Homo sapiens: one gene and its partners. The protein of the gene in region 1 interacts with the protein of each later gene in a biochemical or structural test. Each region holds a gene or a part of one and is shown in the gene's direction. Other genes may lie near its edges. The genes, in order: POU5F1, WWP2, NR0B1 and SOX2.

The links.
Region 2: of the proteins of POU5F1 (region 1) and WWP2, one has a biochemical effect on the other in vitro, tested with the Homo sapiens proteins (2 studies listed by BioGRID and IntAct, with this or other methods).
Region 3: the proteins of POU5F1 (region 1) and NR0B1 form a complex in vitro, tested with the Homo sapiens proteins (one study listed by BioGRID).
Region 4: the proteins of POU5F1 (region 1) and SOX2 form a complex in vitro, tested with the Homo sapiens proteins (one study listed by BioGRID).

The regions. Positions count from the first base shown.
Region 1 is NC_000006.12:31,167,657-31,174,617, reverse strand, and holds the start of POU5F1 (POU domain, class 5, transcription factor 1), read left to right. Parts: upstream 1-3,935; 5' UTR 3,936-3,997; coding exon 3,998-4,402; intron 4,403-6,961. UniProt on the Homo sapiens protein: Transcription factor that binds to the octamer motif (5'-ATTTGCAT-3'). Forms a trimeric complex with SOX2 or SOX15 on DNA and controls the expression of a number of genes involved in embryonic development such as YES1, FGF4, UTF1 and ZFP206.
Region 2 is NC_000016.10:69,793,320-69,800,356, forward strand, and holds part of WWP2 (NEDD4-like E3 ubiquitin-protein ligase WWP2), read left to right. Parts: intron 1-5,362; coding exon 5,363-5,510; intron 5,511-5,854; coding exon 5,855-5,976; intron 5,977-7,037. UniProt on the Homo sapiens protein: E3 ubiquitin-protein ligase which accepts ubiquitin from an E2 ubiquitin-conjugating enzyme in the form of a thioester and then directly transfers the ubiquitin to targeted substrates.
Region 3 is NC_000023.11:30,303,670-30,306,391, reverse strand, and holds the end of NR0B1 (nuclear receptor subfamily 0 group B member 1), read left to right. Parts: intron 1-1,568; coding exon 1,569-1,813; 3' UTR 1,814-2,186; downstream 2,187-2,722. UniProt on the Homo sapiens protein: Nuclear receptor that lacks a DNA-binding domain and acts as a corepressor that inhibits the transcriptional activity of other nuclear receptors through heterodimeric interactions.
Region 4 is NC_000003.12:181,707,172-181,714,934, forward strand, and holds SOX2 (transcription factor SOX-2), read left to right. Parts: upstream 1-4,753; 5' UTR 4,754-5,189; coding exon 5,190-6,143; 3' UTR 6,144-7,265; downstream 7,266-7,763. UniProt on the Homo sapiens protein: Transcription factor that forms a trimeric complex with OCT4 on DNA and controls the expression of a number of genes involved in embryonic development such as YES1, FGF4, UTF1 and ZFP206. Binds to the proximal enhancer region of NANOG.

The DNA.
Region 1 (6,961 bases):
CCTATGCCAACTTCTCATTGAACACCACTCCCAGCTTTCCTACCCCCATTTCTCTTCACAGGTGTGCAGAGAAGTCTACATTCCCATGTCAAGTAAGGGGGGTGGGTAGATGGGAGGGCATATGAGAGCGGGGCAGCAATTTTATGTCTGAGTTGGAAGGAAGTTTAGAGTTCATTGAGTCCAAATCCTCTTTACTAGGTGAGGAAACTGAGGCACAGGAGGGGGAGGTGCCATTAGCCAGGGAGTCAGAGCCAGGACTTAGAACCTGGTCCATGCCTCCTAGTTTGTTCCTGACCAATCCTCCCAGCTCACCCACTCCTTTTGCTCTCACCTCTGACTCCCTACAGGCTACAGCTAGAGAGTTGACTCCTCTATTTGAGGTAAGAGTGTCTGGATTTGGGATAAGGTGACCTCAGTTTGCAGGGCTCATGGGGGAGATCAGAGGGTCCTTTGTTGAGAAGAGGGGACTTGGTCCACAGTGAGCAAAGGAATTTGTCTAAATTGCTATTAAGGGAGATCATCTCCCAAGGTGGGCCAAGCCTGAACCCTCAGCCCTCCGTTTCTTCCCTTTCTTTTGCCTTCAGATTGACAGGCCTCGGAAGTCAAAATAAGTGGTTTCCTAGACCGGGTCGAGAGCAAGTCTCTATTGGTCCCAACTGAGTTTTTTCAGCTGGTTTTTCAACCAAACAGCACCTCATCTCCCAGTGAGGGGAAGGGAAGGCTGGGCTGAGAGCAGCAAGGCTGCTCATCTCACCTCTCCCCACCCAGCCATGCCAGCCGCCTCACCTGGTGGGGAGAGGTGGGCCTCACCTGGGTCCCCTGGCAGTGCTCTGTGAAGGGTCTTGACATTGCACTGTAATAATAAAGGTGTGTGTGAAGTATCTTTTTATGGTGACTTTCTAAAACCCAGGGAATCATGGGACCAGTTCTGATGACTCAGCCTGGCTTCCAGTCTCCTCCAGGCCCAACGGTGGCCCCCAGCACTGGTTGGGGCCTGGGAGAGCTGGCCTTGGCTGAAGTGAAGCCACCTACCCTTCAGGCATAACAGGACAGTGAGAAGGAAGGAAAGCCTGCCTCAACCTCCCATCAGCCCTGAGCACCCCAGAAGGGGGCCGGCTAGGAGTCTAGGCATGCAGGAGGCTGACCCCTGACTGGGCTCATATCCAGCCACAAGGCAGCCAGGGATCCAGGCACCCACCCCTTGTCTGCGTCCCTCTCGGGAATGGGCCTCTTGCCCAGGCCAGAAATACACCACCTACAGTACAAATTATAATCTAAAAACAAGAGGGTGGTGTTGAGTGGGGAAATTGGGGAAGGTGTTTTAGGAGCCACTAGGAAAATGGGCAGCAGGGACTCTCTGGACTGGCTTGGGAAGAGCGCTTTTGGGGAACCTGGAGGATGGCAAGCTGAGAAACACTGGTGTGGAGATTCCAGCCAAATCCCAGGCCTGCCCCTCCCCCTCCTCTGAGAGGCCGTCTTCTTGGCAGACAGCAGAGAGATGCATGACAAAGGTGCCGTGATGGTTCTGTCCTGGGGATTGAGATGGCTGGGGAGGGGCCTCCTCCTGTTCCGAAGCATGTTCCTCCCACCCCCACCAGGCCCCATAATCTACCTGCCTTTTGGGCAGTTAAAGGCCGAGAAGTGAACACAGCTGCAACCCCACTGCCTTGTAGACCTTCCGGCAGACCTGTGGCAGGTATTGAAATGCACGCATACAATTAGGCTCAAAAAGTCTACACAGACAGGAGATGGGCACACGAACAGAGGCAACATAAGAGTGGGGGAAAAGTCTCAAAAGACTCACGGATGCCACCAAGATGAAGACAGCTGGCCACGGGACACCCATCCCCTTAGAAGGCAGATAGAGCCACTGACCCCAGCAGACAAGCCCAGGCAGGGCTGAGCCTGGAGCCTGCAATGAGAAGCCTTACTTAAGTCGACAGAGGTCAGCGTGCCCAGTCCAGACCTGGCCTTCTGGCCTTCGAAGCTGTGGGGAGCCCTGGCCCAGAGCCCCCTCTGGAGCCCCCAGACTTACCCCAGGCCCTCCACTGAGATCAAGTTTTGGGAGCAGACAGACAAACATCATCCCTCACAGACAGGCATTCCGTTGGCTATTCTCTTGCAAACAGAATCAAGCACTAGACCAGCAGCATGAGCCTCAGGATACTCAGGCCAGGCCCAGAAAAACAGACCCTGAAGGGGAGCTTAGGGCAGCCTTCCTGCACGCCTCCACAAATCACTCTCCACCTCCTCTGCGTCTTTCTGCCAGCCAGCCCCACTAAACAAAGCACATCCCTCAATCTGCCAGGCTCGGGGAGGGACGCACGATGAAGCTGGACGCCTGAGTCCCCCAGAGGAAGGAGGAACTAGATACCTAGGTCCCTGTGGGGGGCCCTTGGTGCCCGTCTGAGGCTCAGTCTTTGAGGGGATTGCAGAGGGGGGTTGCTGGAGCTCCTTTTAGCGTCTCTGAAGGGGATTCTGTGTGAGGGGATTGGGACTGGGGGGTTGGGGAGCAGGAAGCAGTCCCCAGGGGAGCCATCCAGGCCCATTCAAGGGTTGAGCACTTGTTTAGGGTTAGAGCTGCCCCCTCTGGGGACCGGGATTGTCCAGCCAAGGCCATTGTCCTGCCCCCTTCCCCCAGTCCCTCCCAGGCTTCTTTGAACCTGAAGTCAGATATTTTTTCTCCACACCCCCCACCCCCTGGTTTTCCCCACCCAGGGCCTAGGGCTGGAGGCCTGGGCCAGGGAGGTGGGGGAGGGAGAACGGGGCCTACCGTGGTATTAGATGTCTGAGTTTTGGTTGAGAGGGGAGCAAGGAACCTGATGTGCAGGTTCCATAGTGGAGGGGGCCCAAAGCGGGTGTCTTATCACTCTGTTTCAGCAAAGGTTGGGAAACTGAGGCCCAGTCAGTCCAAAGTCTGGTCCCTTGAAGGGGAAGTAGGGACCAACCCCTTAGTCTGTTAGATGAGGAGAGTCTGGAGTCTGATTCTGGAAGACGGAGGGGTGGGGGGATGGGGGGGTGGGGGGATATAGCACGGAGGCCTTGTCTGGCAGTCTACTCTTGAAGATGGGGTGAAATTTGGCAGGCTGGGCAGATGGTGCCAGGCACCCAGGCTGCGGGGTGGCTGGATTTGGCCAGTATCGGGATGGGAATGCCTAGGATTCTGGATGGATCGGGGGAAGGCATAAGGGAGCAGCTGGCCATTGTGCTTATGGCTGTTGATGCATTGAGGGATAGCGCCACACACACATTCAATAAATTTGAGGAGCTGAGAGGGTGACTGGCCCCTGAAGGCACAGTGCCAGAGGTCTGTGGAGAGGGGGTCAAGCACCTGGGTTCCTGAAGAACATGGAGGTGTGGGAGTGATTCCAGACAGCTGGGATGTGCAGAGCCTGAGAGAGTGCCAGGGAGCGGGTTGGGAGTTGAAAGTTGGGTGTGGTGGCTCACGCCTTTAATCATGACACTGGGCGGCAGAGGCGGGAGGATTTCTTGAGGACAGGAATTCAAGACCAGCCTGGGTAACATAGCAAGGCCCCATCTCTACTAAAAATAAAAAAACTAACAGGGCACAGTGGTCCAAGCCTGTAGTCCCAGCCACTTAGGAGGCTGGAGCAGAAGGATTGCTTTGGCCCAGTAGATCGAGGCTACATTGAGCCATCATTGTACTCCACTGCACTCCAGTCTGGGCAACAAAGTGAGACCCTGTCTTAAAAAATAAAAATAAAAAAAGTTTCTGTGGGGGACCTGCACTGAGGTCCTGGAGGGGCGCCAGTTGTGTCTCCCGGTTTTCCCCTTCCACAGACACCATTGCCACCACCATTAGGCAAACATCCTTCGCCTCAGTTTCTCCCCCCACCTCCCTCTCCTCCACCCATCCAGGGGGCGGGGCCAGAGGTCAAGGCTAGTGGGTGGGACTGGGGAGGGAGAGAGGGGTTGAGTAGTCCCTTCGCAAGCCCTCATTTCACCAGGCCCCCGGCTTGGGGCGCCTTCCTTCCCCATGGCGGGACACCTGGCTTCGGATTTCGCCTTCTCGCCCCCTCCAGGTGGTGGAGGTGATGGGCCAGGGGGGCCGGAGCCGGGCTGGGTTGATCCTCGGACCTGGCTAAGCTTCCAAGGCCCTCCTGGAGGGCCAGGAATCGGGCCGGGGGTTGGGCCAGGCTCTGAGGTGTGGGGGATTCCCCCATGCCCCCCGCCGTATGAGTTCTGTGGGGGGATGGCGTACTGTGGGCCCCAGGTTGGAGTGGGGCTAGTGCCCCAAGGCGGCTTGGAGACCTCTCAGCCTGAGGGCGAAGCAGGAGTCGGGGTGGAGAGCAACTCCGATGGGGCCTCCCCGGAGCCCTGCACCGTCACCCCTGGTGCCGTGAAGCTGGAGAAGGAGAAGCTGGAGCAAAACCCGGAGGAGGCAAGTGAGCTTCGACGGGGTTGGGGTGTGGGGAGGTGGTCATGACAGGGCAGCCTGATGGGGAAGTGGTCACCTGCAGCTGCCCAGACCTGGCACCCAGGAGAGGAGCAGGCAGGGTCAGCTGCCCTGGCCAGGGAGGGGTGTGTATCAACTGCTGGCAGCCCTGGCAGGCAGGGGCCAGGTGGGAAGTGGAAGCTGGATTTCGAAGAGACAACTGCCGGTGAGGGCAGAGCAGCCTGGGAGAGTCGGAAGCTGGCCCAGGCTGGCCTTTGCTCTGGCCCAGCCCTTGTCAGGGTCTCTCACATCTCCTAGGCCTGCCCAGGGTCTGGTCACTCATTACTGGCCCAGCACCAGACCCAGCTTGGGGTTGGTTTGAGCCCCTTTTCCCACCCTTAGTCCTGCTTGAAAATTTGACCCTTATCAGACCCAAGATTTTGGCCTTAGGGTTAAGCATAGCCTGAGGGTAAAAACAGTGCTCATTCCAGGATTATTGTTCCTGAAAGTCTAGGGTGTGACTCGTTTCTGATAGGATCTCCTGTTTGGGCTGTGTGTGTGCGCGTTGTGAGCTGGGTTTACCTCCAGTCAAGTATAGGGCTTGTCTTCCCCGGATCTCTGCCTCAGGCCAATGACTGGCCACTGTGTTAAGGTGCACACCCTGGCACCCCTTGTAGAAAGCTGGATTTTGATTGACTTCAGCCTCAGTTCCAAAGTTGTAAACAAGAAAAATGGTGAGAGATTTCTCCAGGCCATTTGCAAATATAGAGCTGCTGCGGGATTGAAGGCATCCAGCCCTGCTGAGGACTATTAAAGATGTATCTTCCAGTCCTTCAAGGCGACAAGTGTAAGCAATTAGAGATTAAATACTAAGCCTTGAGACCTCACAGAAAGGTGTGACTGGTTTCTGGAGTGACCGAGAAGCCCCAACCTCTTCGCAGGAGGTCACTGCTGAGCCTTGAATGATAATGGCTGGCAATTGTGGTCCACTTCCTAAGTGCCTGGCTGTGTGCTCCGTTTATACATCATTATCTCATTAACCAGCACAAAATCTCCTAGGGGGAGGTATTATTATCCTATTTAACGGGTTTTAACTGCTAAATGATGAAGCGAGGATTTGGACCAGTGTTTATTCCAAAACCCCAAAACAGAATTTGGAAAATCCAAGATAGCAGAGGGCATTTATCAGTTTGAGTTATTGGCTGAGCAGAAGTTGGGGATGAAAACAGCCTATTTGAAATTGATATGATCAAGCACCATTGAAACACTTCCTTGAGGCTTCAGAACTACAAAAAGGCCTTGTTTTTTTCTCACTAGCTGTGCACCTCTGTCTGCCGGCAGCCTCATATGGCATGCCCCAGGGCTCAGTCCTTCAACCTCTGCTCTATCTACCCTTCCTTCCTCTCACCCACCCTCAAGGCTTAAATGCCATTTAGACACCAGATGACTACCGCGTTTTCTGTCTCTTGTGATGGCTCCCTGAACTGCTCCACCCTGATCACCCAGTTGCTCAAGGCCAAACCCAGTCATCCTCAGTTTCTTTCATGTCCTACATCCTATCCTTAAGAAACATCCTGAATCAATCACAACCTAACCCTGGCCTCAGCCACCATCATCTCTGCTGGGATTACCGCAGTAGCTTCTCAAATTATACTGCTTCCTCCCTACTGTCTGTGGCCAACACGTCAACTAGAGTCAGTGTTTTAAAAGGTGTGGCCAGGCACTTTGGGAGGCCGAGGCAGGCGAATCACCTGAGGTCGGGAGTTCGAGTCCAGCCTGACCAACATGGCGAAACCCCATCTCTACTAAAAATACAAAATTAGCTGGGCGTGGTGACGCATGCCTGTAATCTCAGCTACTCAGGAAGCTGAGGCAGGAGAATCGCTTGAACCTGGGAGATGGAGGTTGCGGTGAGCCGAGATCGCGCCAGTGCACTCCAGCCTAGGCAACAAAAGCGAAACTCTCAAAAAAAAAAAAAAAAAAGGTGAGGCTAGGTGCGGTGGTTCACACCTGTAATCCCAGCACTTTGGGAGGCCAAGGTGGACAGATCACTTGAGGTCTCCTGACCAGCCTGGCCAACATGGTGAAACCCCATATCTACTAAAAATACAAAAATTAGCCGGGCATGGTGGTGGGTGCCTGTAGTCCCAGCTACTCAGGCGGCTGAGGCAGAATAGCTTGAACCCAGAAGGCGGAGATTGCAGTGAGCCAAGATCACGCCACAGCACTCCAGCCTGGGCGATAGAACGAGATTCCGTCTTGGTGGGGAGAAAAAGGGTGAGAGATCATTTCGCTTGGACTAAAACAAAGTCACTATGTCTGCAACAGGATCTACCTAGCCACCAGACCAGCTTTGGGCTCTGGAAGGCCCACTTCAGGGCCTTGCCACATTAGACTCTTGTCCTTTGCTCAAACAATCACCTTCTCTGTCTTTAAAAGTGTCACCCTCCTCCATAATCTCCTTCCCTCCTTTACCCTACTCCTATAGACTGCTTTATTTTTTTTTTAATTTTTGAGATGGAGTCTCACTCTGTCCCTCAGGCTGGAGTGCAGTGGTGCGATCTT
Region 2 (7,037 bases), on another chromosome or scaffold:
CCAGCCTGGGTGACAGAGCAAGACTCCATCTAAAAAAATAATAATAATAAATAAATAAATTCACTGGGACTGTAGCATTGCATTAGAGAAAGAGTTTAATTGACACAAAACAGGCCATATGGGAGACAGAGTTATCACTCAGATCAGTCTTCCTGGAGGCTCAGAGATTAGGGTTTTTATAGACAATTTGACAGGTAGGGGACTAGGGAATGGGTGCTGCTTATTGGTTGGGGATGAGATTATAGAGGTGTGGAAAATGGTCCTGTGCTGAGTCCACTTCTGGGTGGGGCCACAGGATAATTTGTTTCACGAGTCAAGTCACGGGCCCAGGCAAAGTCAGTAGATTGCCAGAAAGAAAAAATCTCAAAAGACCAACCTTAGGTTCTGCAATAGCGATGTTATCTATGGGAGCAATTGGGGAAGTCACAAATCTTGTGACCTCTGGCTTCATGACTCCTGAGCAGTAAGGGATTATAGAAACTATACCTACCTCTTATTAGAATTCAAGCCCCTCCCATAATCCTAACCTTGTGGCTGTTGATTAGTTTTACAAAGGTGGTTTCGTTTTGGGAAGGGCTGTTATTATCCTTGCTTTTTTTTTTTTTTTTTTTTTTTTTGAGACAGGGTCTTGCTCTGTTACCCAGGCTGGAGTGCGTTGGACAATCTCAGCTTACTGCACTTTCTGCCTCCTGGGTTCAAGCGATTCTCGTGTCTTAGCCTCCTGAATAGCTGGAACTACAGGCGTGCGCCACCACGCCCGGCTAAGTTTTGTACTTGTAGTAGAGACGGGGTTTCACCAAGTTGGCCAGGCTGGTTTCAAACTCCTGGTCTCAAGTGATCTACCTCCCTTAGCCTCCCAAAGTGCTGGGATTACAGGCATAAGCCACCATGCCCAGCTATCCTTGCTTTAAGATTAAACTATAGGCTGGGTGTGGTGGCTCATGCCTGTAATCCCAGTACTTTAGGAGGCTGAGGCGGGTGGATGACTTTGAGCTCAGGCTTAAAGTTTGAGACCAGCCTGGGCAACATGGAAACCCTGTCTCTACAAAAAATACAAATATGAGCCAGGCATGGTGGCTCACACCTGTAGTCCCAGCTACTTGAGAGGCTGAGGTGGGAAGATCGCTTGAGCCCCAGAGGTGGAGGCTGCAGCGAGATGAGATTGCACCACTGCACTCCAGCCTGGGCAGCAGAGGGAGACCCGGTCTCAAAAAAAAAAAGAAACTATAAACTAAATTTCTCCCAAAATTAGCTTGGCCCATGCCCAGGAATGACCAAGGACAGCCTAGAAATCAGAAGTAAGATGGAATCAACTATGTCCGATTTCTCTGTCATAATTTTGCAAAGGCAGTTTCACAATTAGAAAAATGTAGAATTTGCTGCATTCTTTAAAACAGCTGGTGGAAGTCTTTAAAAATCATTGTTGCCTTGGCAAAGCTGCTGGGATTATAAAAGAAAAAAACCAAAAAGTTAAACAAACAAAAATCATTGCCATGGAAAAGAAGGGAGGATGTTCTAGATTTTAAAAGATTAAGGAGATAGTAGCCACAGGCAATTTGTATATATTGATTAGGTACTGAATTGGGGGAAAAATGGCTTTAAAAATATGTCTGGGGACTGGGCAGTAGCTCATGTTTGTAATCCCAGCATTTTGGAAAGCTCTGGCGGGTAGATCGCTTGAGTCCAGGTGGATTCCTTGAGCCCAGGAGTTCGAGATCAGCCTGGCCAATGGGGTGAAATCCCGTCTCTACAAAAAAAATTAAAAAGTTAGCCAGGCGTGGTGTTGCGCACTGGTAGTCCCAGCTACTCAGGAAGCTGAGGTGGGAGGATCGCTTCAGCCAGGTAGGTCGAGGCTGCAGTGAGCCGTGATCGTGCCACTGCACTCCAGCCGGTCTACAACTTACTTTTTAATGGTTTTACCTAGGAAAAAAAATGCGGATACACACACACACACACACACACACACACACACACATACACAGAGACATAGATGGCATTTATCTATAACCTTTGGTGTCCAATAGAATAGTCACTGTAGCCACATAGAACTGTTTACACTTAAATTACAATTATATAACATTTAAAAATCATATCCTTATTTGCACTAGCCATATTTCAAGTGTCAATAGCCACATGTGTCTCATGGCAATGTATTGGGCAGCACAGATGTGGAACATTTTCGTCATCATGGAAGTTCTCTTGGGTAGTGATGCTATAGACACATAGAACAGAAAGCAAATGTGGCAAAATGATAACAATTGGTGAAGAGTATACAGTATTTATTGTTCTATTTCAATTTTTCTATAGATTGGAAACTTAAAAATAGGAGGTTTTTTTTTTTTTTTTTTTTTTTTTTGTGAGAGTCTCTCTCCATCACCCAGGCTGGAGTGTGGTCTCAGCTCACTGTAGCCTCCGCCTCCTGGGTTCAAACAGTTCTCATGCCTCAGCCTCCTGAGTAGCTGGGACTACTGTTGTGCCCCACCACGCCCAGCTAGTTTTTGTATTTTTGGTAGAGACAGGGTTTAGCCATGTTGCCCAGGCTGGTCTCAAACTCCTGGCCTCAAGTGATCTGCCTGCCTCGGCCTCCCAAAGAGCTGGGATTACAGGCGTGAGCCACCATGCCCTGCTTCAAAATAAGAGTACTAAATGCCAGTATGATCCTAGATTGGGGCCTGGACCAGAACAAATTTTTTTTTCTTTCTTTTTTTTTTTGCGATGATGGGCATCGATAGGACAATTGGCAAAATACGAATAAAGTCTGTAAATTAAATATTAGTATTATAAAAAGTTAAATGTCCTGATTTTGATAATTGTGCTATTGGTTATGTTAAAAAATGTGTTTGTTGGGAAATACACCCAGAAATATTTAGGAGTAAAGGGGCACAATGTCTAGAGCTTACTCTCAGAGTTTCAGGAAAAAGTGTGTATGTGTATGAGCGCAGATACTTCTCAACTTACAGTGGGGTTACGTCCTGAAAAACCCATCATAAGTTGAACATATCGCAAGTTGAAAATGCATCTGATACTCCTAATCTGCCGAGCATCATAGCTTAGCCTAGCCTACCTTAAATGTGCTCAGGACACTTCGATATCCCGCAGCTAGGCAAGATCATCTGGTGAAGGGGTACACGGCAGAGTATCAATTGTTTGCCCCTGTGATCACGTGGCTGACTGGTGTTGCGGCTCACTGCCGCTGCCCAGTAGTACCGCATATGACTATTCTGCGAAAAGACCAAAATTCAAAATTTAAAATACAGTTTTTACTGAATGCATATCGCTTTCGCACCCCTGTAAAGTCAAACGTCCTAAGTAATGCACCATTTGTAGTCCCTATTTTTTAAAGGCATGTAGATTCATGCTCTTACCACCAGGTGGCCTCAGTTAACCTTGGTCCGTGTGTAAATCACTGCACCTCATTTTTCTACCCTGGGCCATGCCTCAGTACCACAAACCTTTGTCCCTAGTACTGTTCCCTTGTCGCTTCTGAATCTTAGCCACAGCTGATTTTTTATCTGTTGTCTTCCTCCCTTCTGTTCCTTTGGGGCCAGAGGAAGATAGTTACTGCTATAAAAAATCTGAAGGTGAATTTGGCCTTTGCCAAGTTGTAGACACCATTGTAGGACTGTCACCTTTCAGAAGAGTCTGGGAGGGAGGGATTTGCTTATACTCAAACAGGGAAGCTCAGGCTAGGATAGACTTGCCATTACAGGCAAGGGAGCATCAGTTGTATCTCTGATTTGGGGCAGGATGGGAGACGTCTAGATGTGTTTTACCCTAGCGACCTGGCGTTTCCACCAGGGGTAATATACACTAGGATGTCTGTCTAGCTCCTCGGTGTGATGCTTGTGTAGCTTTGTACTCCATGAGTCTTTGGCTTGCTGGTCCCAAACGAACATCAGAATTGTTGCCACATGAAGGCTATGAGCGGAAGAAGAAATGTAGATGACTAACGACACATGGCAAAAATATTCAACCTTGCTGGTAATCGAAGAACAGCAATAGAACAAATAAGTAAAGTTCAATAATAATATGCAGCATGATGTGGAATCAGACCGGCCGGGTGCACAGTCTGGCTTGTAGCTCCCTGGCTATGTAGAGTGGGAGAGTGACCTTGCCTCTCAAGCCTGTTTTCTCCTGGGTAAAATGGGGTGATGATATATTCCCTGCCTCATGGGTTTGTTGTGAGGATTCAGTTAGAAAATGTATGCACATGGCAGAGGGTCTTTAATAAGTACTCATAAAATCTTAAATATTATCTTTATTTATTTCAGTTAAAATTTATAAATTGGCCAGGTGCGGTGGCTCACGCCTGTAATCCCAGCACTTTGGGAGGCCAAGGTAGGCAGATCATCTGAGGTCAGGAGTTTGAGACCAGCCTGGCCAACATGGTGAAACCCTGTCTCTACTAAAAATACAAAAATTAGCCAGGCACGGTGGCGGGCGCCTGTAATCCCAGCTACTCAGGAGGCTAAGGCAGGAGAATTGCTTAACCTGGGAGGCAGAGGTTGCAGTGAGCCGAGATTGTGGCATTACACTCCAGCCTGGGCAACAAGAGCCAAACTCTATCTCAGAAAAAAAAAAAAAATTATAAATTTTGTTATGTTCCCAGGCTGGTCTTGAACTCCTGGGCTGAAGCAGCCCTCCCACCTTGGCCTCCCAAAGTGCTGGGATTCCAGGCATGAGCCGCCACGCCCGGCCTTAGCTGTTGTCTTTACACCATGCGTTTTTAACCCATGGATTTGCAAAAAGTGAACAAGCATATCCCTTAGCACTCTGTGATGTCTGGTAAAATGAATATTCTCCTGTAGCACTGATGGGAGGCTACATGGGTTTACCTTTCTTGGAAAGGAATGGGCAGTTTTAAGAACTTTAAAAAGTGTTCGTATCCTTTGGAGGAATACTCAAGAAAGGCATGCAGATGTATATGTTCACGGTAATTTCCCCAGAGCGAACAATTGCAAGCAGTCTATTCGACAATGAAAGAATAGTTAACATATACCTATTATGGGCTTGTATTGCAGTCATTTAAGAGTGACTTATGGGGGTGAAGAATTTTTAAAGAATTGAATAAATAAAAGATGAAAATCTGGAAGGCAATTTACCAACGATAAATTGGTGATGATGATCACTGGCAGTTATCCCAGTGGTTTCAGGTTAGGGATTTTTTTTTTTTTTTTACACTTCATATTTTTTTTGGTGTGTGTACTCACATTTCTTTAAAAAGTTTTTAGAATCAAGACAAAACAAAATGTATTGATTTATTTTTTAAAGCAATAACTAAAAAGAGCCGGAACATCTGCCACAGGGGGGCATCTGGGAGCCCTGGGACTCATCTTTGACTTTTTCTTTCTTTCTCTCCCAGTGGTGTCCGCAAAGCCCAAGGTGCATAATCGTCAACCTCGAATTAACTCCTACGTGGAGGTGGCGGTGGATGGACTCCCCAGTGAGACCAAGAAGACTGGGAAGCGCATTGGGAGCTCTGAGCTTCTCTGGAATGAGATCATCATTTTGTAAGAGAAAGCCCCTTCTTTTTGAACGCAGCAAGATGGGGAAAGAGAGAGGGTGCTCCGAGGGGGTTGTGGGAGGTACAGATTCCCTGTGGCACCTCCGACTTTTTCTACCTATGGTACCCAAGGTGACTCTTTTTAGGTGTTCCTACACCATTGAGCTCATAGAGCGTTCATTATTATCTAGAGGGTTACAGGGTCAGCTTTGAGAGGGGAAAGGATATATGTGGGTGTCTGCCTGTTTTGGTTCCCCCTCCCCAAGATGTCAGCAGTTTAGTTTAAATGTTTTCTTCTAAGTTATAGGAATGATCTGCTTGGATGTAATGAATCAGGTATTTGTTTTTCAGGAATGTCACGGCACAGAGTCATTTAGATTTAAAGGTCTGGAGCTGCCATACCTTGAGAAATGAACTGCTAGGCACCGCATCTGTCAACCTCTCCAACGTCTTGAAGAACAATGGGGGCAAAAGTACGTATGATGAAGGGGGTGCCGACGTGATTCTTGGGTGGGGATGGGAGGACCTGGCAGATCAACCTGGTATTGCAATTTCCCCCAGGACTAGGGGCTGCAGTACCTCTGTTCTCCTTGGATGCTGTCTTTGGAGTTTTGGGAAGGCTGAGGGCTCCTCTCTGCCTCCACTACAGAGTTTAGCCCTCTTTGTCCAGGGCCTCTAGTAATGTGATGCAGTGGTGTGTTGCCCTTTATCCTTCCTTAGGGACTGGAAACTTTCTGTCTGCCTCTGCTCCTCTTCCCGTTGCAGGAGATGTGTGATATGTTGAATGAAACTGTCAAATACCTCTAGCCTAAATCATTGCTTTTCTAGCCTCAGCCCTAAAACAGAACAAAGGAGCTGTGTGTATACGTATATGTGTGTGTGTGCATGCCTGTGTGCATGTGTGCACGTGTGTGTCTGGGATAGTATTACAAATAGTGCCCTGTGCTTACTCGGCACTCAGTAAACATTTACTGGATGTTGGAACGTGATGGACGCGCCATCTGAATTAGCCAACGTGCCTCTACGTCACGGACATATAAATCCTCATCTATTTATTGCTGTTTGTGGTCAGTGGCATGGCCCATGGCGGTGGTATTGGACCCTCCTTCATAAGGCCTCTATTCAGAGCAGTACCATATGTGGCGAATGAATGGCATGGAAAGAAAGGCTCCTTTTTCTCTTGATATCTGGAAAGTATTTTCTGAAAGTGGATGTAGCTTAAGAGAGAGGTGGGGGCGGGGAGAGTTGCGTCCCAGCGAGCGTGTTACATGATTTAAGAGTCTTTCTTTTCTCTCCAAGCCTGTCCTTTTAAGCGATGGGCCACTTGAAAGGTCTTTGAGCCTCCTCTGGTCTTTTCTTTTCGGCTGGGCACATAGAGATGTGCTGAACCCACACTGGCCCGAGGAATTGTTTAAAACCAGAGATGTGCCTCCACTTTAATCCTGCAGAGAACTCCCTGATTGCTTTGTCTTCTGAATTGGTGTTTATTTTCCCAAACCCTAGCCAGCCTTTTGTAATTTGATCATCAGGGAGA
Region 3 (2,722 bases), on another chromosome or scaffold:
TATAGGTTCAAACTTAAGGAGATATAAAACTGTGGAGTCCATTTGCATTTTCTCTTCCCTGACCTTATTTTGAAGGCCAGTTTGTGTGTCTCTGTGTGGGGGGGAACCACTTGGGTGGGGAGAAGGTGGAGGGGTATATTGTGAACACAGAGAAAAGTAATGTGGCATACACAAGATGAAGTTTTCACAAGCCATGAATCTAGACCTAGAGAAGCTTCAGATTTCTGGTGGAGTTTCATGCAAGCCTCTTCCTACTTTCATCGATGGAATTCAAACACAACAAAATTGGGTCTTAAGCCTGGATCTCAAGCTGTAGATAGAAGGGGATGATAATGTGTGGACTAGAGTAATCAGAACTGGAATATGGATTAAAATGGTTGCTTTATTTTTGTTCTTATTTATGAGATTTGATATTCGCCCATAATAGGAGTGCCTCTCGCTTATTACCATTATTATTTTTTTAAAGAACACTGGTTCTGCTGCTCTGTGATGATTGGCATGGTGCTTTTAAAATACTTTTCTGTTGAATTTTTTAGGAAAAGGGAAGGAAAATGATTGCAATCATCATTAACATCATTTAAACCAAGTGGTCAACTGCTAATTACTTGAATACAAGTTAAAGAACTTTGCAACGATATTATCATCATGGAAGATCAAAGGACCTTCAAAAGCAGCCTCCTCTTATTACTTTCCTTATAAAAACTTACATCCACTTAAACTTTCCTGCATTTATTTCTTTCACTTTTACTTCGGTATCACACTATACTGCAAAAGGTCATGTGTTTTCTATTACAAAAGTTATTCTTGAATCATGGTACAATTCGTGATGTTTTCATGTTTACTTTTTAAACTTTTAATGACTATAAGAATTTTCAAAAACTTCTTACTTTAATATTTTTGAAAAGAGCCTTTTTGAACACTCATTAGAATCATTCTTTTATTTTTTTCAAAATCTTCCCCAATACAGAAATCATGGTGCAATGAGCTAAGTGGCCAGTGTTAGCTTTCAAATTATTCGGGCCTCTAGACTAATATTGGCCTGCAGGCAAATAGGTAAAATGAAACTGTGCGTCAAAGTTTGTGGCTGTGAAGTTTACCACCATTGGCTGAACGATCAGTGTAATGATGGAAAGTTCAAAGAAGAATGGTAAAAACATTTGTCTCATGGCAACACTTCTTGTTTATCATGGCTTGTTTCTCATAGGTAAAGTGCCCACCTCTTGAAATATCATGAACTTCTTCATATTTGCATAGAAAGTGAACTGGAGTGATGATTCATTAAACCGTATTCTACTGTCATATTAAATTGTGTGCGTTTGTTGGCTCATGGCCAGTGTATTTGCAAACGTGTGCATAGAAACATAGTAAATATTAAGTAAGATCACATGATGTTTCATTCTTGGACACGTTGCTTCTGAAAACGTAGACTGGTTTGGCCTTTTACCCTTTTAACCGGGAAGCTTTGGGTCTTGTTTAATTGGGATGAAACAGAAATGGCTATTTTTAAAAAGCTAGCAAAGGACTCTGTGGTGAGCTGTTTTATAACAAAGAGATTTTTCTCCCTCCAGACGTGCCGGGCCTGCAGTGCGTGAAGTACATTCAGGGACTCCAGTGGGGAACTCAGCAAATACTCAGTGAACACACCAGGATGACGCACCAAGGGCCCCATGACAGATTCATCGAACTTAATAGTACCCTTTTCCTGCTGAGATTCATCAATGCCAATGTCATTGCTGAACTGTTCTTCAGGCCCATCATCGGCACAGTCAGCATGGATGATATGATGCTGGAAATGCTCTGTACAAAGATATAAAGTCATGTGGGCCACACAAGTGCAGTAGTGCAGTTCACCATGAGGGAAGAATAAAGAGCTGTGGGCAAAAGAGTGTAAAATATTTTAAAATAAACTTTCTTAATATTTTTACATGCAGAGTATTTTTGTATTCAATTAAAGAAATAATTTTATTCCAGACAGTCACAAATTTCTCTGTTCCATAGTTAAAGAAGACATTTGCCAACAGGTAGCATAGCTCTGTACATCTTTTAAAAAAAAAATAGCAGGGTACTAGTATAATAAGCTATTTTCACAAGTGTAGCAATTTCATGGAACCTGCTCAAATCAAATTTGTACATATTGTTATAATAAATTTTAAGGTCTTAACTATTAACTTGATTGAAAAAAGCTTCAGCAGGGTTTAAGTAAGGCCTCAAAAACTATTAAAACCTAGCCAACATAAGCAAAAAGTATCTTTGGAAGTAACAACATGACATTGAATGTAATTATGTGCCAGTATCAGTGGGAGGTCACTTTGCTCTATCTTCATTTCCACTTCCCTCAGCTGTATGGAAGACTGCGTTTGCATCCAACTGGAGTCAAGAAGCAATCTGTAATTATAAAGACATGCAGAAGTGAAAGAGGAGATTTTCTGTTTTATTGGGGGATCTTTTTGGTACACAGTTATGGATTTAAAGATCCACAAGGAACATACATTCTATAATGAGGGGTTATAGTTCCAGAAAGCTCAACATCATTATAAAACCACTAATTACACTTCATCTTTTAGATACATTACGTTTGTAACTGGTATATTGAACAACATGGCATGAAATCATAAAGCAACTTTATTGTTATCTCCTGCTGCCCCTTTAATTATAATCCATAGAACTAATTTTTCTTTGTGTCCAGATAAAATCAAGGCTACTATATGTCTATTTGTTTATG
Region 4 (7,763 bases), on another chromosome or scaffold:
AGTTTTGAATTTTTGCTCTTACTTTCTATATCCTAACCTTTTCCAGCTTATTTCTTGTTAATTGTTTTTGGAAAGTATGCAATGCTCTTTTAAGGGAAAAAAAATCTTCTAATGCACTTATTTACCTTCATTTATATGTGTTTGTTTCTGAAATGAAGAATCAAGCTTTGGTCATTCCGGAAGTCGTGTAGCATGCTCCAATTTGAAGTGACTGAGATCTTTTGTGACTTACAGAGGAGAAGGAAATGTTTTAAAAATTGGCTTATGCCAGTCTCCTTACTCTGAAATTCTCAATTTTCTTGTATTACAGGATAAATATAAATATCATCTCACCAAATTGTACCAGCATTGTCCTAAACATTTAAATTTTCCTTTATTTTTGGCCTTTAAAATTAGAAAATTTTCTCCAGTTGCTGCACTTAGCTTTTTAATTTTGTTTTCTTTTCACTTACCAGACTACTGGTATGATCTCTTTCACTGCAGTATGATTGCTGCTATGGTCACTTTTAGAGGAGATTGTGGGAAGGTTAGGATTTGGAGGAAACATGACAAAAAAGGGAAGAAAAAAAAAAACCTTCATTTGACCACATCTGGCTGCTTGTATATTTAACCAGTTCTAGAATTAGAAAACCTTTCTGTACATTTTCTTCTATTTTTCTCACTTTTTTCCTTACATAATGAAATTAAAACTTTTGGAGCCTACAGTTGACATTTTTCAGAAAATTGAGTTATCAAGGCAGTAATTATTTCACGGGGAGATAAAACTCTCATAGCCCTAACTGTCAAATAGGGCCCTTTTCAGATTTTAATTACAAAATAAAATTAGTCTGCTCTTCCTCAGAATGGTTTGTGAGTGGTTAAACAGAGCTTTCCCCCAATACTGGTGGTCGTCAAACTCTGCTAATTAGCAATGCTGAGAAATTCCAGTTAACAAGGACATTCTCCAAGACTCTGCAGGTTCCCTGCCGTTTGCCTTCATTTCCATAAGAAGATTAAGAGAGGAGGGGAACACACTCAAATGCAGATGCAGAAAAGAAGCGTTTTTTAACAAGCATCATAATAGTAAGATGCTTGGCTAGTTCTCACCTAATTACTGCAAGTTAAACCTCTATTTGACACTAAGAAGAAAAAATAAGTCTACAGTCCCCTGTCTCCACAAAATTGTTAGTTGGTTTCAGATATAATACTTGAGGAGTGCTGAGGAGACTTTAGGAGAGAAAAATCAATGTGCAAGATTTTGAAATAAAATTGAGTTACACTTAACAGTTAAGGCCTTTTGGCTAGGGCCTATAATAGAACAAAATAAAATCAGAATATTCCAGGAGTCATGCATTTTTGTTACTAACTACTAATCTTGCTCTAAAAGTATGTAGCTTTTTGTTGCCCGTGGAAGGGAAGTGTTACACTCCCTTTAGATTAAGCACTTTCAATTTTCGTAAATTGTGCCAATGGCAACATTTTAGATTCTCAGAGGATGAAGCATCCTGTTCCAAGTCTTTTTTGATTGTCTAGTAGTCAATGGTATATTGTTGTTAGTACTGTAGCTGTCTATTACAAACCTAAAACAGTGTTGCTTCTGTCATCTATTGGAATCGTTATAGTTATTATATTTAGGGATCAGTGATGGTGCTGGATTGAAATAGAGTGGGCAGTGATCTGATTTTTTAAAATGCATATGTTCTAAAAAATCTAATGAGAAAATGTTCCTGCTATCACCATCTTCTTTAATCTTATTTTCATAGCACATTATTATGCATAATCGCCAGCCACAGTTAGTTTATTGTCTCGATAAGTACAGCAGGCTTAATTAAAATAAAGCTGTAAATAAATGCAACCAATGATAACACAATTGTAACGTAATTCCATAGCTTATTAATGTGATAAAAGCAATTAATAAAAGACCTAGCCAACCCCTTTAACCTCTTAAATACATTATTATAGAGTTCATGCACAAACACATGCATCTGAGAATGTGTAAAAGTTGTTATATATCCTCCCAAGGAAAAAAATTGTGCCTTGAGAGAAAGGCAACGAGATTTAAAAGATTTGTGTCTATAACCGTCTGTTATTAGTATTTATTTTAACAAATATACACCACCCTTATCCACACCAATTCCTTGGTTGTTTCTTCAAACAATTATCCACAAGCTTTTTAAAGTTTTTAGAATAATGCTATTAAGCAGACCGATGCATACACAATCATAAAGTGAATTCTTGGTCTGCCCTTTGTGGCGTCTGGACAATCATAATTCATTCACATGTTGAATCTCATAATTTGTACCTATTTTTTCCCATGGTCTAACCTCCCACTTACCTCGAGGTTGTATGTATATTTCTAAGTTAGGCAAATTAAATCTGATTCTTATGATTTGGTTCCGCAGCTTATAAGATATGTTAACTTTTCTTTTGTTTAGATTATGTATAATTAGTCTGATCTTCCATCCCCCTCTTTTTTTTTTTTTTACTTTAATTATTTTCAAATACCTTCTTTTAAAGGTAAAAGCAATAGTCTTGGAAAAGCGAATCTACCAGCAGGGGGCGCACCAGCCACATCCCTGAAACCAGCCGCGCTGAAAAGCCGGTGGCCGCCTTCTCTTCCCCAGATCTTCTCAACCTTTTCTCTTTCCTAATCTCCAGGTCCGTGTTTACCTTAATATTACACCTGGATTAAACAGAAAACAGTGCTGTATTTTGAAGAGCGCCGAATATGTATGCATTTTGAGAAACCCAATCTCACCCTTTCCGGGTTCCCAAGAACTAAAACAAGCCATAACTTGAGAGAAAAAGGAGAACCTTCGGGGGGCAGGAAGGTTGATTGGAAATAACTTAAGGAAAGTCTGCAGAATTCTTTTTTTTACAACTTTTCTGAGTTTCCAGTGGGTATATTTAGTGTGAGTTTGACAGTAACAGGCTAGGGAGGGCAGAGATTGGAGAAATTGGGGGTCGGGGGAGTGATTATGGGAAGAAGGTTAGTAAGGAACAAAACAATGCACCGTTTTGTAAAGATAATAAATGGAACGTGGCTGGTAGATACTATTCAGTACATTTTCTTAGGGTGAGTAAGGGTAGACCAGGGGAGGAGGGGGCGGAGAGAGTGTTACAGAAGAAAGAAAATAAGTAACCCTGATGGTTTAAGCCCTTTATAAAAAAGAAATGGCATCAGGTTTTTTTTTCTTTATTCCCCCCCACCCCACCCTTTGTAGTCAAGTGCATTTTAGCCACAAAGATCCCAACAAGAGAGTGGAAGGAAACTTAGACGAGGCTTTGTTTGACTCCGTGTAGCGACAACAAGAGAAACAAAACTACCTATTTGTAACGGACGTGCTGCCATTGCCCTCCGCATTGAGCGCCTACCTATTGAAATCTTTACGTCGGGACAATGGGAGAGCGGCTAAAATTACCCTCTTGGGTCCTGGGCGGGCAAGATTCCTGAGCCCCTACCCCCGCCCCCATCTCATCCTCCTCTAACCCGGGCCTTGCTGGGCTCCCCCTTCCCCAGTCCCGGCCGCCTTCTCCCAGTGTGCGCTGCCTGCACCTGTGCCTGGAGAGCATCGACCCCGCCTCCCAGGCCTTGAGCCCCTTTGCGGCGCAGCCCCAGCCTTGCGCGGCCTGGGCTTTGCGGCCACCACAATGGAAATCTACGGGGAAAATGCCAGGGCTGGTTCTGCTGGAGTCCTGGGAACTCTGCGTGGGAGGGAGTTTGTGACTGCGGCCCAAAAGCCACCTCCATACAGTGCCGTGGGATGCCAGGAAGTTGAAATCACCCTCCCCCATCGCCTGCACTTTTGAGCGCCCTTCCGTCTGTGTCTTTCCCCAGCCCCCATTTGAAAGCCGCACGACCGAAACCCTTCTTACGGGGAGGCATGGGATGGGAATGGGGAGTGGGGGCAGACAGTAGAAGCATCCCCTTTGCTACGGTTGAATGAAGACAGTCTAGTGGGAGATGTGGCTGGGGCTAAGAGGAAGAGCTGCAGTTTCCTGGGCCAAAGAGCTGAGTTGGACAGGGAGATGGCAGCTTACCAAGGCCTGCTGGTTCTCAGCTCTAGAGTCTGCCTTATGGTCCGAGCAGGATTTATTTTTAAGAACAGAGCAAGTTACGTGGAAGCAAGGAAGGTTTTGAGGACAGAGGTTTGGGTCTCCTAACTTCTAGTCGGGACTGTGAGAAGGGCGTGAGAGAGTGTTGGCACCTGTAAGGTAAGAGAGGAGAGCGGAAGAGCGCAGTACGGGAGCGGCACCAGAGGGGCTGGAGTTGGGGGGGAGTGCTGTGGATGAGCGGGAGAACAATGACACACCAACTCCTGCACTGGCTGTTTCCAGAAATACGAGTTGGACAGCCGCCCTGAGCCACCCACTGTGCCCTGCCCCACCCCCGCACCTTAGCTGCTTCCCGCGTCCCATCCTCATTTAAGTACCCTGCACCAAAAAGTAAATCAATATTAAGTTTAAAGAAAAAAAAACCCACGTAGTCTTAGTGCTGTTTACCCACTTCCTTCGAAAAGGCGTGTGGTGTGACCTGTTGCTGCGAGAGGGGATACAAAGGTTTCTCAGTGGCTGGCAGGCTGGCTCTGGGAGCCTCCTCCCCCTCCTCGCCTGCCCCCTCCTCCCCCGGCCTCCCCCGCGCGGCCGGCGGCGCGGGAGGCCCCGCCCCCTTTCATGCAAAACCCGGCAGCGAGGCTGGGCTCGAGTGGAGGAGCCGCCGCGCGCTGATTGGTCGCTAGAAACCCATTTATTCCCTGACAGCCCCCGTCACATGGATGGTTGTCTATTAACTTGTTCAAAAAAGTATCAGGAGTTGTCAAGGCAGAGAAGAGAGTGTTTGCAAAAGGGGGAAAGTAGTTTGCTGCCTCTTTAAGACTAGGACTGAGAGAAAGAAGAGGAGAGAGAAAGAAAGGGAGAGAAGTTTGAGCCCCAGGCTTAAGCCTTTCCAAAAAATAATAATAACAATCATCGGCGGCGGCAGGATCGGCCAGAGGAGGAGGGAAGCGCTTTTTTTGATCCTGATTCCAGTTTGCCTCTCTCTTTTTTTCCCCCAAATTATTCTTCGCCTGATTTTCCTCGCGGAGCCCTGCGCTCCCGACACCCCCGCCCGCCTCCCCTCCTCCTCTCCCCCCGCCCGCGGGCCCCCCAAAGTCCCGGCCGGGCCGAGGGTCGGCGGCCGCCGGCGGGCCGGGCCCGCGCACAGCGCCCGCATGTACAACATGATGGAGACGGAGCTGAAGCCGCCGGGCCCGCAGCAAACTTCGGGGGGCGGCGGCGGCAACTCCACCGCGGCGGCGGCCGGCGGCAACCAGAAAAACAGCCCGGACCGCGTCAAGCGGCCCATGAATGCCTTCATGGTGTGGTCCCGCGGGCAGCGGCGCAAGATGGCCCAGGAGAACCCCAAGATGCACAACTCGGAGATCAGCAAGCGCCTGGGCGCCGAGTGGAAACTTTTGTCGGAGACGGAGAAGCGGCCGTTCATCGACGAGGCTAAGCGGCTGCGAGCGCTGCACATGAAGGAGCACCCGGATTATAAATACCGGCCCCGGCGGAAAACCAAGACGCTCATGAAGAAGGATAAGTACACGCTGCCCGGCGGGCTGCTGGCCCCCGGCGGCAATAGCATGGCGAGCGGGGTCGGGGTGGGCGCCGGCCTGGGCGCGGGCGTGAACCAGCGCATGGACAGTTACGCGCACATGAACGGCTGGAGCAACGGCAGCTACAGCATGATGCAGGACCAGCTGGGCTACCCGCAGCACCCGGGCCTCAATGCGCACGGCGCAGCGCAGATGCAGCCCATGCACCGCTACGACGTGAGCGCCCTGCAGTACAACTCCATGACCAGCTCGCAGACCTACATGAACGGCTCGCCCACCTACAGCATGTCCTACTCGCAGCAGGGCACCCCTGGCATGGCTCTTGGCTCCATGGGTTCGGTGGTCAAGTCCGAGGCCAGCTCCAGCCCCCCTGTGGTTACCTCTTCCTCCCACTCCAGGGCGCCCTGCCAGGCCGGGGACCTCCGGGACATGATCAGCATGTATCTCCCCGGCGCCGAGGTGCCGGAACCCGCCGCCCCCAGCAGACTTCACATGTCCCAGCACTACCAGAGCGGCCCGGTGCCCGGCACGGCCATTAACGGCACACTGCCCCTCTCACACATGTGAGGGCCGGACAGCGAACTGGAGGGGGGAGAAATTTTCAAAGAAAAACGAGGGAAATGGGAGGGGTGCAAAAGAGGAGAGTAAGAAACAGCATGGAGAAAACCCGGTACGCTCAAAAAGAAAAAGGAAAAAAAAAAATCCCATCACCCACAGCAAATGACAGCTGCAAAAGAGAACACCAATCCCATCCACACTCACGCAAAAACCGCGATGCCGACAAGAAAACTTTTATGAGAGAGATCCTGGACTTCTTTTTGGGGGACTATTTTTGTACAGAGAAAACCTGGGGAGGGTGGGGAGGGCGGGGGAATGGACCTTGTATAGATCTGGAGGAAAGAAAGCTACGAAAAACTTTTTAAAAGTTCTAGTGGTACGGTAGGAGCTTTGCAGGAAGTTTGCAAAAGTCTTTACCAATAATATTTAGAGCTAGTCTCCAAGCGACGAAAAAAATGTTTTAATATTTGCAAGCAACTTTTGTACAGTATTTATCGAGATAAACATGGCAATCAAAATGTCCATTGTTTATAAGCTGAGAATTTGCCAATATTTTTCAAGGAGAGGCTTCTTGCTGAATTTTGATTCTGCAGCTGAAATTTAGGACAGTTGCAAACGTGAAAAGAAGAAAATTATTCAAATTTGGACATTTTAATTGTTTAAAAATTGTACAAAAGGAAAAAATTAGAATAAGTACTGGCGAACCATCTCTGTGGTCTTGTTTAAAAAGGGCAAAAGTTTTAGACTGTACTAAATTTTATAACTTACTGTTAAAAGCAAAAATGGCCATGCAGGTTGACACCGTTGGTAATTTATAATAGCTTTTGTTCGATCCCAACTTTCCATTTTGTTCAGATAAAAAAAACCATGAAATTACTGTGTTTGAAATATTTTCTTATGGTTTGTAATATTTCTGTAAATTTATTGTGATATTTTAAGGTTTTCCCCCCTTTATTTTCCGTAGTTGTATTTTAAAAGATTCGGCTCTGTATTATTTGAATCAGTCTGCCGAGAATCCATGTATATATTTGAACTAATATCATCCTTATAACAGGTACATTTTCAACTTAAGTTTTTACTCCATTATGCACAGTTTGAGATAAATAAATTTTTGAAATATGGACACTGAAATTATTCTTGAGTCTTTCATTTATTTGGATAACACTGTGATTATACATAACTTTTCGGGGAATTATAATACTGTGCTCAGCCAAGAAAGCAAAATACCAAAAACCTTGGTATTACTAGTCCAGCATCATGTGCTAATGTTAACTGCAAAAAAGAAACGGCTGGATGATTAATAAGTACTGGAAAAATTGAAATTTCTGTCATTTCTAAAATAGAAACTAGAGACATATATTGTAAATCCGCCCCCTCCTTTTCTAAGCAGCATGAATAAGCATGATGGGGACCTATACTTAAAACTGATTTATGCCACTTGTTGCCAGAAAGGATTCAATTCTGAAATTTTTCATGTAGTTTAGCAGATGGGATATTGAGCCAAATCAGAACCAGGTTGGCTGGTTTTGTTTTCATTTTCTTCACAGCACAATGGCCCTTTGAAACCTGGCTATAGAGAAAAATGATGCTTCTTGTATCAGAATAATTGCAAACTAGACATGCAAAGTG